Homo sapiens: one gene and its partner. The protein of the gene in region 1 purifies or fractionates together with the protein of each later gene. This does not show direct contact. Each region holds a gene or a part of one and is shown in the gene's direction. Other genes may lie near its edges.

The links.
Region 2: the proteins of METTL26 (region 1) and GOLGA4 purify together in Homo sapiens (affinity purification with mass spectrometry; one large-scale study listed by BioGRID and IntAct). This does not show direct contact.

Annotation. Positions count from the first base shown.
Region 1 is NC_000016.10:633,711-637,552, reverse strand, and holds METTL26 (methyltransferase-like 26), read left to right. Parts: upstream 1-1,247; 5' UTR 1,248-1,262; coding exon 1,263-1,459; intron 1,460-1,778; coding exon 1,779-1,941; coding exon of another isoform or gene 1,942-2,035; intron 2,036-2,212; coding exon 2,213-2,272; intron 2,273-2,489; coding exon of another isoform or gene 2,490-2,596; coding exon 2,597-2,664; intron 2,665-2,755; coding exon 2,756-2,834; intron 2,835-2,908; coding exon 2,909-2,956; coding exon of another isoform or gene 2,957-3,027; 3' UTR 3,028-3,123; downstream 3,124-3,842. Other genes in the region: WFIKKN1 (WAP, Kazal, immunoglobulin, Kunitz and NTR domain-containing protein 1 precursor), read right to left, coding at 3,496-3,842.
Region 2 is NC_000003.12:37,249,513-37,253,322, forward strand, and holds part of GOLGA4 (golgin subfamily A member 4), read left to right. Parts: intron 1-185; exon of another isoform or gene 186-230; intron 231-1,882; coding exon 1,883-1,972; intron 1,973-3,810. UniProt on the Homo sapiens protein: Involved in vesicular trafficking at the Golgi apparatus level. May play a role in delivery of transport vesicles containing GPI-linked proteins from the trans-Golgi network through its interaction with MACF1. Involved in endosome-to-Golgi trafficking.

The DNA of each region.
Region 1 (3,842 bases):
CCTGAATGCAGAGCCAGGCGCTTGGCACTTTCTGGAGAAGAGCCCGGCTCTGAGGCTGGGACCCCAACCCTCGGGCGCACATAAATCGCGGCCTGTGACTTGATTTCGGGGGTCACCGACCGACCCCTCACGCTATCCGTGGGCCCTGAGCTGGTGCTGTTACCCCAGTGTCACAGAGAAACCCTGGGGCATTATTCGTGCCCCTCCCGCAGACCGCCCAGTTCTGCAGGCTGGGACCGCCCGCCCCGCCCTCTGCCGCCCCTGCCGCCCCTGCCGCCCCTGCCGCCCCTGCCGCAACCCCGCTCTGGCCCCGCCCCAACCCGCCAGTCCACACTCATGTCCCGCCCCCCAGCCCCGCCTCCCCTCTCGGACCCGCCCCGATATGGCCCCGCCCCTCCGGCAACCCCGCCCTAAACTCGGACCAACAGGGGGCCCCAGCCCAGCCCCGCCCTCTCCCCAGCCCCGCCCCGACAGGGCCTCGCCCCCATCGGCTCACGAAGGCCAACGGCTTCCACGGCTCAGGCCCGAATCGAGACTGTCCTCCAGCTCGCGTCCTTCACGCCCGCTCCTTCCCCTCCGGCACTGGGGGGCACCGCGAGACTCTTACCCTCGCGGTCCCGCCAGCTGGGTCCTCCTATGCAGTCGCCAGCTCCCTTGCGCTGAGCCCGGCGCCAGCGGCGGCGCACGCCCGGAGGACTTCCCGCGTCACAGTCTCTTGTCTCCGCGGGCAGCAACTGTCTTAGACAGCGCCGCTGGTGTAGTGGTATCATGCAAGATTCCCATTCTTGCGACCCGGGTTCGATTCCCGGGCGGCGCACTTAGTTTTTTTTCCCATTTGAACATCGAACTCTCGCTAACGCCAGAAATTTAAAAGTAGAGAAAACCCGAAACCAAGGGAAGGCGCCCAGTCTGGCGCAGCGCTGACACAAATTTCGGAGAGTGACACAGGTGCCCTGAAAACCCTGGACGGCCATGGGCGACAGGGTGCCTGAGCTGAGGCGCCTGTAAACCAGCAAGCCAAGCTCGCCGTTCAGTCCCCTGCCTGGGACCGCCACACACCGCTGAGCCGCTCCCCACCGTGCCTCTGGCGACTGCTGGTCCTTTAACAGGAGGCGCGCGTGCTCCTGGGAGTTGTAGTTTATCAGCTTCCGACGTGCCCCGCGGTATCTGGACTACAGCTCCCGACGTGCCCCGCGGAAGCCCGGCCACCGCCCCCGACGCGACCCGCGCCGCGTCCGCGGCGGGGAGTTGTTGCTGCCGCGATGCTGGTGGCGGCGGCCGCGGAGCGGAACAAGGATCCCATCTTGCACGTGCTGCGGCAGTACCTGGATCCGGCCCAGCGTGGCGTCCGCGTCCTCGAGGTGGCCTCGGGCTCCGGCCAGCACGCAGCGCACTTCGCGCGGGCCTTCCCCCTGGCCGAGTGGCAGCCGTCGGACGTGGACCAGCGCTGCCTGGACAGGTGCGGCCCCCGGGGCGGCCACTTCTATCGGTGCGGCGGTCCGGGGCCTCAAGAGCCCACGGCCCGCAGCCCCGGAGGAAAAGGATGCGGCTCGGGCTCTGAGGGTGCGGGGTGGGAGCCTGGGGGTGCCCCCGGGGCAGGCCCTAGCTGTGCGGCCCCCGCGGCTGCGGAAGTGGGTGGACCTCGGGGTCCCCCTTCCCAGCCGCTTTGGTCTCCGCTCCTCAACGTGCCCCCCAGCCTCCCCTAAGAAATTCTGTGGGGGCGTCGGAAAGGCGGGTGCACAGGACTCGGCCCCCACCCAAGCGTTCGCCTCCTGCAGCATCGCGGCCACCACGCAAGCCCAGGGCCTGACCAACGTGAAGGCCCCGCTACACCTGGACGTGACGTGGGGCTGGGAGCACTGGGGCGGGATCCTGCCACAGTCGCTGGACCTGTTGCTCTGCATCAACATGGCCCATGTCAGCCCCCTGCGCTGCACGGAGGTCTGTGGGGAGCCCAGCATGGGTGTCTGCCGTGGCACCACTCACCCTGCATGGGGGCAGCTGGGATGCCAGATTTGCCCCCATCACAGTCGGGGTGAGGGTCTCCAGCCTCCCCCATCACAGTCGGGGTGAGGGTCTCCAGCCTCCCCCATCACAGTCGGGGTGAGGGTCTCCAGCCTCCCCCATCACAGTCGGGGTGAGGGTCTCCAGCCTCAGGGCCTGGCTTCTGTTGGGGGCAGCACCTCACTGCCGTCCTGTTCCTACTCACCAGGGGCTCTTCAGAGCAGCAGGACACCTGCTCAAACCCAGGGCCCTGCTCATCACCTACGGGGTGAGTGGGCCTGTCCACGGCGGGCCTCCCGCTCCCAGTCCTAGCTGCTGTCTCCTGCCCTGCTGAGAGTCCTCCCTCCTGGGCTCCCTGCCCCCCGCCCAGCCACCAGCACGGCCTCCCCTCCACTTCCAGTCTGTACCCCTCCCTGGGTCATCTGCCAGCCTCCCTACCCCCTTGCCCACCAGGCTGGCCTTGGCTGACTCCCTCTTGGGGACAGGGAGGGGGTGCCCTTTCATTCTCCAAACCCCAGCCTGCAAGTCTGTCCCAGGCTCTCTGGGAAATACCCCGACCTTGGTCCAGTGGGCTGTGTCCCCATGCCCACAGCCCTATGCCATCAATGGGAAGATCTCCCCCCAGAGCAACGTGGACTTTGACCTGATGCTCAGATGCAGGTCAGAGCTAGAGGCGGGGGGTCTGGCTCAGGTGGCAGGTGGCTTGGGTGGCACCCCCCAGGCCATGACTCCATCTCCCCACCCTCTGCAGGAACCCAGAATGGGGGCTTCGGGACACAGCCCTCCTGGAGGACCTGGGAAAGGCCAGTGGCCTGCTCCTGGAGAGGATGGTAGGTGGGGGAGCGGGGGCCCAGGCAACCTCTCTAGGGGTTGAGGGCCGTCCTCCAGCAAAGTGTTTCTCCAGGTGGACATGCCAGCCAACAACAAATGCCTGATCTTCCGGAAAAACTAAGCCCCTCCTTCACCCCCGCACACCTGCATCCCTGCCGGAGGCTCTGTGAGGCACGAACCCTGCCTCCCTAGGCCGGACCTTGTGGACGACAGCCCCACCCAGTCTGTGCTCTCAGCCGCTGGCCGAAGGGCCCAGCCTGCTCAGAATAAAGCATGTCCTGCTGCCGGCTTGCTGGTGTCTGCCCCACCTCCTCCTAGGAGCACCTTGTGAGGTTGGGTGGGAGACGGGGTCTCCTGTGGGGTCAAGGGCTTGGGACGTCCTGATCCTTGCTGCTGGAGCTCGGGCAGTGGGATTGGGGCCGAGACAGCTGCTGAGGCAGGATGGAGCTGGTTGGGGATGCAGGGGCGGACAGGCACTCCCTGGTGACCTTGTACCAAAGCCCAAGCCCCAGTGGGTGTCAAGGCCCCAGCGGAAACTGGCTGGGCATGGGGCACCTGGAAGGATGAGGGTCGCCCGACCAGCAGCAGCAAGCCAGGAGGTCTGAGGCACAGGGAGTGCGTTTATTCACCAGGACGGGGTGGCGCAGGCCCCTGCGGGGGCTAGTCCTGGAAGCGGTTGAGCAGCTCGCAGGCCTGCTTCTCCAGCAGCTCCAAGATCTTCTTGACGCGCTTCTCGCTGGCGGCGCGGACGTAGCTGCCGGCGTCCAGCACGGCCACGCCATCGCGCACCTCACCCATGATGACCAGCGGCCCGTCGCCCGCCGTCATGTTGGGGCAGGGGCAGGCCCAGTCCATGCCACTCAGCGTCACCTCCAGGTACTTGGTGCCCAAGAACTTGAGGCCCATCTTGTCATCCTTGAGCACGTCCTCGAGCGCCACGCGGGCGATGCCGCCGGCGGCCTCGGGCTCCTCCAGCACCTCCGTGAGCCGCCCCACGATGGCGAAGT
Region 2 (3,810 bases), on another chromosome or scaffold:
ATTCTCCTGCCTCAGCCTCCTGAGTACCTGGGATTACAGGCGCACAACACTACTCTTGTTCATGTTTTTAAGTCCTTATTCTTCCTGTTTTGTCTTTGGTGGGAGAGGATATGTCATCCCTTAAGGTGACTTCTGCACATAGCTAATTTCATCTGTTGTATTGATTTTTCTGGTTCATCTTTTAGAAGGTGTTGGAGTTCTTGGTTGTAAGCAACAAAAAGTCAATCTAGGTAAGCAGAAAAATAATTTATTGAAGACTCTTTACCCTACAGAATTTCCCTGAGGTCCCAAAAGTCTGAGCTGATTGCTACGTCCAGTTATACTGGGGAGACTACTCTGTGTTGCAGCTGCTTCAGCTTGGCACCAGCATTGCATCTGTCACTTCACAGCTTATATTTGTGTGGATGCATGAAGTTCTGTCTCCATTGTCATCAGATGATGAACTTTATTTGTATGTCTGTTTTTTCACATCACTCACTTATGACTCGAAGTCTCATGTGTTTCATTGATGGAGCTCAGGTTACCCTGTCTCAGATAAAAAGAAGATTGGGTTAGTAAGTTTTCTGAGTTCTAACTTACGGACTTATAAGAGCTGTTTATAGAAAAAAGGTTATTAAACTTTTGTCATATTTGTAGATGCTTTTCCTCACCTCCCAATTAAACTGCTGCTTTGATTTGTTTTTCACATAAAAATCTCTTTCCCATTCAGAGATTGTAGAAATAGACTCTTGAATTTTTTGTATTTCAATAAAAAAAATTAAATCTTTAATATAGCTTAAGTATGAAGGATCTGATTTGTGTGTCTTGCCCCATATGGATGGCCAGTTGTCCCAACATTTATTGAATGTCTATCCTGATGCAAAATGTTACTTTTATCATAAGCTAAATATGTATATGTCTGTCTGGATGTATATATGTGTATATAGAGTATGTGTATATTTGTATACTATTCCTCACGACCTCTCAGTTCCACCCTAACCACAGCAGTTTGTGCACGGATACCACAGACCAGAGTTCCATTTGTTTATTCATTCATTCATTTATTTGACAAATATTTATTAACTGCCTTTTGTAAAGTGCAGACTACAAAAAGAGGTAAGATATCATGACTCATTCATTTCTCAAAATAGATCTGAGTTCAGATCTATTTTGCTGTGGGTGTAGGGGGATTTCAAAATTTTGGTTTTATACTTTTAGGGTTGTTTTTAGCTCACCTTAGAGTAGACCCCAGACCTCTAGTTTAAATTTTGAGCCCTTTCTCCTGAGTTTTTTTGCGCTGAGGGTTATAGGAGTCAGGCTGTCAATTACAGAGCTAAATGGAATAGCATCTCAGTATTTAGCAGTGGTATTCAAGGTAGGCTCAAAGCAAGGCCATTAATTAGGTGGGCAAGTGCTGTTTATCTGTGCATTTCATACTATTGAATGTTAGAGCTAGAAGGTAGAAGGGATCTTAAAGATTGAATTGCCAGCCTTTTTTTTTTAAATGAACTTCTAATTTTGGAATAATTTTGGTTTATAGAAAAGTTCTAAAGATAGTGCAGAGAGTTTTTATATACCCCTCACCTGGCTTCAGTTTTCTCTAATATTATCATCTTACACTAGTATCGCAACTTTATTTTATATATGGAGACACATAGTCCTCAAAAAGTTCATGTAGCTAAGATCATAGTTCTAGTTGGTGGCAGAGTTAGGCCAGGGACCTAGTAGGTAGCCTGGGTTTTCTAGTTGATTATATTTGTTATCCTTTTCTGCTTTTCGTGTTTTTGCTCTTTTCCTTTCTTTCACTGAATTCTTTGGGCATGGACTGAGAGAAGGACTACCTAGTTCATAGTTCACTAGTCAATATAGTCTTGCTAATTTGTGCAATAATTTTTAAATCTAGGCGTCCTCCAATTCTTCAACACCAACAAGAATGAGGAGCAGGACATCTTCATTTACAGAGCAACTTGATGAAGGTACACCCAATAGAGAGGTAAGTTTGGAATTCCTTTTCTAGTATACCTCTCAAAAGAAACTAATCTAAAATGTATGCTGTTGATAACAAAATGGGAAACTTTTGACAGGTCAGCTATTTAATTCCTAGGTAGAGTTTTTATTAGTAACACAATTGGTCTTTTTTTTTTTTTTTTCACAAATAGCAGTTATGATTTATGTCTGTCTGTCTGTCTGTATGTATGTATGTATGTTTTTGAGACAGGGTCTGGTTCTGTCACCCAGGCTAGAGTGTGGTGGCACGATCACTGCACATTGCAGCCTTGACCTTCTGGATTCAAGTGATCCTCTAACTTCAGCCTCCTGAGTAGCTGGGACTATAGGCGCACGCCACCTGCCTGGCTAACGTTTAAATTTTTCGTAGACGGGGTCCCACTATGTTGCTCAGGCTGGTCTTGAACTCCTGGGCTCAAGTGATTCTCCCAATTATGCTTTATAAAGTATGGTTGTTGAGAACCTTAATTTGAGAGGATAATATGTTCTGGATTTAATAGTTGAAGTTTTCAGAATAATTTGATAAATTTGTTCAACATAGCATCATTTTTTCAAGCTGGTGAGTGGAAACTGAGAAGTAACTTATTTAACTTATTCCATGTAACCAGCAGCTGGCATTAAAACTCATTATTTCCCACTTTTTTTCTGTGAAGTGTAACACACATACAAAAAGAAGGTAAAACATAAATGCACGGGTCAGCAAATTATCATGAAGTGAATCCTCCCAGGTCAAGCAAAGGAACACTGTTAGCACTGTCGTGCTCCCTTTCCCCCTGAAGGATTACCACCATCCTGAATTTTTGGTATTTGCTTGCTTCCTTTTTTTTTTTTTTTTTAATAGTTTTACCTCTTAAATATGCTTTCTAAATGTAAACATTGTAGTTAAACATTTGGGTTGTCTACAGGTTTTGGCTACTATGAATTATGTTGCCATCAACATTATTGTACTTTTTTTTGGTGTACATGTACCTGCATTTCTGTTGGTATGTACTTTGGAGTAGAATCACTGCTCCATTTTAACACATAAGAAGATAATGCTGATGGTTTTCCAGAGTGGTTGTAGAAATTTAAATTCTCACCAGGAGCTTATGAAAGTTGCTTTTGCCCTATATTTTTGAGAGTCTTTATTTTTCTACTCTGTGTAAATATGCTGGAAAACAGTCTTTTTCATTTCAGCTGTTCTGGTGGTGGTCTTTCATTTTGGTTTTAATTTACATTCTCTGATAACTAACGAGATTGAGCATTTACATCTGTTTATTGCCCATTTGATGTCTTTTGTGAGTGCTTAAGTCCCTTGCCCATTTTCTATTGGATTATCTTTTTTTAAAACTGATTTGTAGGAGTTTTTTAAAAAATATAGAATACTAAGGAGTTTTTTGTTGAATATATATCTTGCAGCTATCTTCCACTCAGTGGCTTGCCATTCATTTTAATGATGTCCTTTGATGAACAGAAGTTCTTAGTTTTAGGCCAAGTATGGTGGCTCATGCCTGTAATCCCAGCGCTTTGGAAGGCCAAGGCAGGAGGATTGCTTGAGTCCAGGAGTTTGAGACCAGCCTGGGCAACAGAGTGAGACCCTGTTTCTGCAAAAATAAAATAAAATAAAATTAGCTAGGTATGGTGGCATGCACCTGTGTGGTCCCAGCTACTCAGGAGGCTAAGGCAGGGGCATTACTTGAGCCTCGGAGGTCGAAGCTGCAGTGAACCATGATTGCACCAGCCTAGGTGACACAGTAAGACCCTGTCTTTCAAAAAAAAAAAAAAGCCTGGTTCCCATCCATTTCCCATCCCTGACAGTACCTTCTATCTTAGAAGTTTAACAAA